Regions from separate parts of the Homo sapiens genome. Here regions 2 and 3 are each linked to region 1. Evidence: fine-mapped expression QTL. A gene starts in region 1. Each other region holds a variant in brackets. All regions are shown on one strand. Distances are from middle to middle.

Region 1 (2,761 bases):
CTAATAAATCACCTTTTGCTGACAAGCTGGATTTGTCTCCTTCATTCTTTAGTTTCTCAGCTCCTTCTGTATTTGGAGGTCACTTTGAATATACGGCCCTTTCATGAAACAACCAGGAATTCCTGTAAAAATGTTTTTTATATGTTCTGGTCTTCCCTAAAATATTTTATGAATTAGATCAAACACAATAAAAAATGTATTAGTTATTACTATGCCTAAGAGATTATAAGTGGCTTTCCCCCCTCTAAATTACAGAAGACACCATTCCTATCCTAGAGGACTTTCTCGTGTAGTTGGAAAGATATTCGATAATGTTTATTTAAAAGCTGTAACAATTACACAAGGCTGAGAACCTGAGAGCTAGATGGGTGATAAAGACAGGTTTACAGTGGGGCTCAGAGGAGAGAAAAAGAGGGAGGAGAGTCAGGGAAGGAGAACAATGAACTGAGTCTAAAATAAAGGTTAATATATTCGCGTAGGATCTATCAAAACAGGAGCAGTATTTCAACCCATTGTTTTCAAGCACCTAGAACAAAGTGAGCCCATAGTAGACACACACCAAACATAAATGGATGAGTAGTAGTGGGTGGCAGAATTCCAAAAGCAGGTTGCACCTGATTGCTAAAAGGCTTGAAAACAGGTCAAGAAATACTGCTATTTAGGTTAGTCATTTCACCTCAATAACTCGAAGTACCTAAACATAGACTTTTTTTTTTTTTTTTGAGACGGAGTTTCGTTCTTGTTGCCCAGGCTGGAGTGCAATGGTGCGATCTCGGCTCACCGCAACCTCCGCCTCCCGAGTTCAAGCGATTCTCCTACCTCAGGCTCCCGAGTAGCTGGAATTACAGGTATGCGCCACCGCGCCCGGCTAATTTTGTATTTTTAATAGAGACGGGGTTTCTTCAGCTCAGGCTGGTCTCCAACTCCCGACCTCAGAAAATCCGCCCGCCTTGGCCGCCCAAAGTGCTGGGATTACAGGCCTGAGCCACCGCGCCCGGCCAACACCGACTCTTTTCACCCTCCCAGGTATCTAGAGAGTCGAGTGGGAGGGAAATTGCTGGCTCTGGCCACTACAGTAACATCAGCACCTAGAGCAGTGCTCAACTGACTGAAGGCTCCTGTGAGTCGCCCTCTCCCCCTGGCCCCCCAACCCGCGGGGAAAGGCTGGCGGGACGCCACACAGCACCTCGATTACGCCATTTCATTTGCCACTGCACCATCTATCGGACACTAGCTAGGCTCTTCCAGGACCGGACGCACCTCCGTCCCCAAGGTGCCACCTGACAGCCAACACCGACGGGGTGATGCATGAATACAGTCATTATTCAAATTAGCTAAAACACCTAACTCATTCGGGTGAGTCTCGCCAGTCCCTCTGGGCTGACTGTCCCGCCCCGCGCTTACACCCGGGAGCGTCGGGCGGGAGAACTAGTGCATGCTGGCTGGGGATGGCGGACGCAAAGCCGGAGGCAAGGCCGCGCACGCGCAAACGCGGGCGCGCCGCCGGGCCGTGCTAGTGCGCGGAAGACGCATGCGCTGGCGGCCTGCGCCGCCTTAAGTGCCGCGCCAGCCCGGGGCGGCCCAGTCGGCCTGTCAGCCGGCTTCGAGATAAGTCCCGGCGCTTGCGCGGCGGCGGCTATGGCGGCGGAGGAGGAGGAGGTGGACTCTGCCGACACCGGAGAGAGGTAAGCGCAGCCGGCAGGGGGCTTCGTGTGTCTCCGGCGCGCACCCTCCGCGCGGGCCGGGTTAGGGCCCAGCGGGCAGCACCAAGGAGTCGCCGCCCGCCTGGCGACGACGGGCGGCTTCCTCGACCCTCCCCGGCATGAGTCCGCGCGGCGCCCAGAGGCGTCCCGGCGCCGCTCTGCCTGGGAGAGGCTCCCCTCAGCGTCGGGGCCCCGAGGTGTCTGAGCCGGACTCCGGCCGCGCCGGGAGGCCGCCTTGACCCCGCGCGGAGGGTCCGCCCCGTTGTTGTATAAGCCACCCCGCGGGCCGGCGACGGAGCTGGCCGCGGCGGCCGCACCGGCTCGGGCTCTGCCAAGGGACCCGGCCTGCCCCAATGCCGCCGGCGGGCGGTGCCCGGTCGACCCTGCACCTGACTGCGAGGCGCGGGAAATGACCGGGTCTGTCAGCCTCCCATCGCGGCTTCCGTCTACAGGTACTACCTGTGCTCTGTCCAGCCTCAGCCACTGGACGATCCTTCCCGTAGCCGTAGGAAGGGGCGGCGCTTCCTTGGAGGGGATATTAGAGGCCCGAATTCGCCCGGGAAGCGGCGGGAGGGCGGGGGTGCCGGGAAGGAGGGAGGGGAGAAGGAGTGAGGGAAGTGGGTGTATGGCTGTGAGTTTCAGATACTTCATAGAAAGAAAGTTAGCCCTTAAGATAGAGATACACGTTCAAATGTCATAATTCATCTTTCGGATGAAGGTCTTTGGCTTGCAAGCTCCACTGTCCCTTATTTGTTTGCGCTTCTGGGATTATTCTGGCTTTACTGGCGAAGTGTGTGTTGCATGTGCCTTAGAAGAACACACATAATGTATAGGAAACTGTGGAAGTTGGAGGGCAGATGTCTAATGTGAAACTTTTTTATATACAGGTATAGTGAGTTTATTCTTTTCTACACCTAAATGACTTCTTGCACTTGTTAGTAGAAGAATAGTAGTTAATGAGTGGAATAATTAAATTGTTATGGAGGTTATTGCCTTGTTTCTCAAGGCCTGTCGTTTGTATTGGAAAGTAAACTTCCCCCATATATATTTAATTTTTT
Region 2 (2,761 bases), 44 kb after region 1:
AAATGTCCTTTACTCAAGGAGAAAAACGTATTTGGGGTACATATTTTCACAACCATCCTGGCATAAATTTTAAAATCTGTGTGCAAATGGGTGGTGATTGCATCATGTTAGGTTGCTCAGAGAATGTCTTTAAGATGACATGATTGAGAATTGATTCATTAACACTGTTACTATTTTTTCAGAGCTCATTCCGCAAAACCATGTCTGAGAGCCAGGAAGTCTGGATTCTTGTCCCAGTGCCCCAACCAATGAGCTGAGTGGCCTTGGCAAGTCACCCAGTCTGCACCAGTTTTCTTGTCTGTGGAATGCTGGGCTTGGATGAATAGTAATTCAAGGATCTCTCCCTCTGCAGTGTGCTTTCTGGTGACCATGAATGGATGCTGTCAGTAGATGCCTTGGTGCTCTTTACGGTGCTGGTGCAACTACCCCCAACTGTCAGGAAGATGTCCCCTAGTGGCTTATAGCTGTCTCCTCTGCAGAATTGCCCTTGGCCAAACAGCTGCTTCCTCACCTGGGAGATCACACCCCTGCAGCCGATGATTGACTGACACGTGGGTGCAGAAAGCCTGCCCTCTTGCCTCCAGGTGGGACCCAGTCTGTGGTGCAATTTGTGTTCCTGGGCACCTGTGGGACTGGCTGAAGTTAAACTTCAGATTAAACTACATCCTTAATTAGCTCTTTCCCTCACTCCAGCCTATTTCTCTCTCCTCGCGTTTCTTGAGAGCCCCCAAAACCCAATATATAAGAATTCTTTTCTTAGGCTTTGCTACTAGAGACCCTGATCCAAGAAAGTCACCTTAAAAGGAAGGGCTTATGGGTATGGGATTTCTTGAATTTTCCGGAGGGTGTAAGGTCATCATGAAAATAGGGGATGGTGAGGTGTAAAAACAGAGAGGAAGCCTTAAACCAGGGATGTCCAACCTTCTGGCTTCCCTGGGTCACGCTGGAAGAAGCATTATTATCTTGGGCTACACATAAAATACACTTAACACTAACGATATCTGATGAGCTAAAAGAAAAATGCAAAAAAATCTAATAATGCTTTAAGAAGGCTTAAAAATTTGTTTTGGGCTGTATTCAAAGTCATACTGGGCTGAATGTGGCCTGCAGCCATGGATTGGAGAAGCTTGCCTTAAACTGAAGCACTGGATATATTTGAATAAATATGCAGTCTTTAGTTTCTAGAAAATTTAGTTTGCATTTGATGTGATGCTGAAACCTCTAAGTAGAAACACCTGCTCATGTCCGGCCCAGAGTGAGTACTCACTGAATAATTATTGAACCAAATCATGCTGAATTTCTAAAATGGGGCCTAGAATTCCTGAAGATGTTTGATTGTAGGAGAGAAGAGTTTGGGGGCACAAAGGAGAGAAAGTATTAGGTTGGTGCAAAAGTAAATGCGGTTTTGGCCATTACTTTTAATGGCCAAAACCACAATTGTTTATATACTATAAAGAGAAGTCTGGGCTGAAGGCTCACTCTGTCCCAACTCCTCTAGGAAGTATGATGGAGATCGGGACCAGGGGTAGGCAATGATCTGAGGTCAATCTTAGCAGGTATGTCTAGACCGCAGGTGCCAGCATT[C/T]TGGTAGGTTTGGAAACCCCTCTTCTCTACTCCCAGCCACCTCCCACCATGCTGGTAAACTTGATGGAGGAGGCAGCTCCCTGCTCTCAGCAGCTCTCCTGGGTCCAGCTCCCTGCCTTTCTCAGTGTCTGGGGAATGAGAACAAGTGCTCTCATTGTCCCATAGGGACAAGGCCAGGGCTTCGCTAACCTGGTACCTGGTGTGCTGGGATTTATGGTTCAAAATGAAACACTCTGCATTCCCCTCACCCACACTGCTTCATCCATACCCAGCCTTCTCAGTGGTTCTCCTCCCACCTGACTTTTGGACTTGTAGTTATTTTGTGTCTCCTTATCCCCTCACTAATGAGTGGCCAGAGAAAGCTCAGAGGGGCTAGTTCTGGATTTTTCAGAACAAGGGATGGGAGTCATGGCAAGGAATTGAGATGCTGGGCCAAAGAACAGAAGTCTCCACCCCTATGCCAGCCCTGGGTGCTCTGTGGACTTGAGGTCAGCTGTGGCCTGCCCTGAGCTGGAGGCCTCTCCTGTTAGTTTTACATGAGGGGCCCCATGGGCAGAGAGGCTCATCACCCGAGTAAAGGTGACACAGGCTGCGGGAGGCAGGGCCTGCAGTGGAGAATGTGGCCTCCCAGGCCTGGTCACGCCTTCAGAAGTGTGAGGGTTTTCTAGGGTGAGAGTTGATGTTCCTAACTTTAGCCTTCAGCTCTCGGGGAGGCCCTTATGACCACACACATCTGTCAAAAATACCCTGTCCACCTCCCAAGCCTATCAGGGATCCCTGGCCTCATCCTCACAATGGGATGGGGAGGAGGCTTGATGGTAAGTTGGGAGATGGGAAAGGAGAGAGGAAGAAGATAAAGGAAATGAAGACGACAATCACTGAGTGGGTGATGGCTGCATGCCACCTGCATTCTCGTGACCCCTCTCCTCTGACCTGCTCAACAACCCCGGGAGTCAGAAATCACCTCCCAGACCTCAGTTTCTCCACACATTAAGATGTACTGAATAACCACCTGAGGGTCTCATAGGCCATTTCACTGATGTTCGCAACACCCCATGAGGCGTGCTGTTATCATCCCCATGAGGAGACAGAGCCTGGAAAGGTTGATTTGCAAAGAGGTGAAAGCCTGCCACAAATCTAGGTATGTCTGACCTCCTTGGCGATTTTGGAGCTTTGG
Region 3 (2,761 bases), 240 kb before region 1:
TATGTTAACTGCAAGAAATCCATCTTAAATAGAGGGATTCAGGTTAAAAGTTAAGAGATGCTGGGAGGCCAAGGCGGGCGGATCACTAGGTCAGGAGATCGAGACCATCCTGGCTAACACGGTGAAACCCCGTCTCTACTAAAAATACAAAAAATTAGCCAGGCCTGGTGACAGGTGCCTATAGTCCCAGCTACTCCGTGGGCTGAGGCAGGAAAATGGCATGAACCCGGGAGGAGGAGCTTGCAGTGAGCTGAGATTGCACCACTGCACTCCAGCCTGGGCTACAGAGTGAGACTTTGCCTCAAAAAAAAAAAAAAAAAAAAAAGTTAAGAGATGCACACAGATCTTGGTTTCTAATACCATTGTCCAAAACAAAGGAACCAGAGCTCCTTGGAAAAATGGCTGAGTCTAGGACCGCAGCAGGAAATATACAAGATGAGTCTTATCAGATAAAAACTAAGGAAATCTGAATAAAGCATGAACTTTAGTTAATAATATTAATAGTTGTTCACTAATTATAACAAGTGTACCATACCAGTGTTAGATGTTAAAAGTAGGGGAAACTAGCTATGGTGTATATGGGAACTATCAGTTCTAGCTTGTTAACTTTTCTGTAATCTAAAACTATCTTAAAATTAAAAACTTTATTTTAAAAAGACTTTTACTTTATCATATATATTTATCCCAAAATCACAGGTAAAACAATGAATAATTAAACTAGGATTCCAAACAAACCATCTAAAAACAACTCAGCAAAATCTGCTAAACCAGTTCTCAGGTTAAGGGTGAATATCCTGAAAATGACCTACATCTCCCAAATCTATGACCATGTTTCCTTACATTAGAAATATCATTGCCTACAACACAGGCAATGCATTTTTTTTTTGTATTTTTTGTTTTTGAGACGGGGTCTCACTCTGTCACCCAGGCTGTGTAGTGGCACTATCTCAGCTCACTACAACCTCTGCTTGCCGAGCTCAAGTGATCTTCCCACCTCAGCCTCCAGAGTAGCTGGGACTACAGGTGTGCACCACCA[T/C]ACCCAGCTAATATTTGTATTTTTTGTAGAGACGGGGTTTTGCCATGTTGCCCAGGCTGGTCTTGAACTCCTGAGCTCAAGCAATCTTCCCACAGCCTCCCAAAGAGCTGGGATTACAGAACACCAAACCCAGCCTTTGTTCTGTCAGGAGCTGTCCAAACACTGATGAGAGTAAAGACAAGAAGCCTGGCGGAGAGAGAAACGTATAGATATCACTGTGTGTAGAATTCTTAGAGTGGGTGATCACTTTGTGACCTCCACTGTCATCAGCTTCGGGGCCCAGGGTTCATGTCCCACATTTTATTGTGCCTTAGGGCCTAACAGAGCATGTGGATTCAGGAAGGAATGCTTCCCATCTTCTACTTCTCAGATTGCATTTAAATTTACTCCTTGTTGAACTTATCAGCAATAACTCAAGCTTCTCAGGTTTTGCTTTAATGTAACCTTTGATATCTTTGTCAGAGCAAGGGAAGTGGGAAAAATGTACAGAGGCAGTGGATATAGAAGAAAGGGGATGAAAGAAGTAAAGCCAACTGGCAAGTCTTTGCTCTGAGAGAGAGCAACTTCATACAATTGAACAGAGAGTTTGTAACAAAAAAGAGTTACAACTTTTTATAACTGCATATTTTTTTCAAAGATAACATTTTCTGTTCTCCGCTGATATATTTTCTTGAAGAAAATACTGGTTTATGGTTTATTACTTGTTATGTTCTTAAGATATGCTTGAGGCACACTACTGTCAGAAAAGTAAGGAGAAATTTGAACTACTTCTTTGAGAAAGTCAGGTTTTCACTAGGGAGACCCTCTCAGTTACAAAGTGACAATAACAATCAATTTTAACAACTCAGAACTTGCCATACCGAAAACACTCGAGGGAAGATGAATATTCATAGGTAGATAAAAATAATTTTTAAGGTTTAACAACAGCAAAAGCGATTTATCCTAGCTATTCTGAATTTATTATTAAAAAATGTATATACCTATATCTTTTTGAACTATAGTTTGAAGGTAATACAGTCACATGGTTAGGAAAAAAGGTATAAAGTGATACCCCTACCCCTGCCCTCATCTTCCCAATGCCCCACTGTGCCTCCTGCCCACATGTACAATCAGAATATATTAATATTTTCTCCATGTTTATATAAAAGGAGCATACAGAAATACTGTTCAGCATTTTCCTTTTTTGTATTTCCTAATATTAGAGATCTTTCCATATTAGTACCTAGACAGCACCCATACTTTATCGACCAGTGATGGACATTTACACTATTTCCAATATTTTTGTTATTAGTAAGGGTGCTGCAATAAATTTCCTCCAACATTTGTCATTTTGTGCACAGGCAAGTATATTTGTGGAATACATTCCCAAAGACAGAACTGCTCGGTCAAAGGATATACACAGTTGTAATATAAGTAGATTCTGTCAAATTGTTCCGTACATGGTATTAAGCACGCATGTACAATCAACAGCTGAATATGAGACTCCCTGGTCCTCCACAGCCTTGTCGACCCAAGGTGATATCCCTCTGGTGGATTTCTGCCAATCTGATAAGGTGACAATAGGTGTTTCAGTTTAGTTTCCACTTGCCTATCTTACTCTGAATGATGTTGAGCACCTATTCACACACTTAACCGCCATTTGCATTTTGCTTTTTTTGTAAACTTTCTGTTCATAATGAAAAGCATTTGAGAAGGTTGAGGGATTGGAGAAAAGGGAAGAAAGAA

The links.
Region 2: its variant is fine-mapped to the expression of ABHD5 in whole blood (INTERVAL, PIP above 0.99).
Region 3: its variant is fine-mapped to the expression of ABHD5 in whole blood (TOPMed, PIP 0.90).

The regions. Positions count from the first base shown.
Region 1 is chr3:43,689,355-43,692,115 of GRCh38, forward strand. It overlaps ABHD5 (abhydrolase domain containing 5, lysophosphatidic acid acyltransferase), which reads left to right and starts at 1,584. Exons shown (of 7, transcript NM_016006.6): 1 at 1,584-1,685. The coding sequence starts at 1,639. It also overlaps a transcript of ANO10 not described here. RefSeq lists a silencer at 1,756-2,235.
Region 2 is chr3:43,733,698-43,736,458 of GRCh38, forward strand. It overlaps a transcript of ABHD5 not described here. Among named protein-coding and RNA genes, the nearest start is that of ABHD5, 44 kb to the left of the region's middle. The variant C/T (reference allele first, on the strand shown) is at 1,585.
Region 3 is chr3:43,444,820-43,447,580 of GRCh38, forward strand. The region is part of intron 11 of ANO10 (anoctamin 10); the gene reads right to left. Among named protein-coding and RNA genes, the nearest start is that of SNRK-AS1, 94 kb to the left of the region's middle. The variant T/C (reference allele first, on the strand shown) is at 1,037.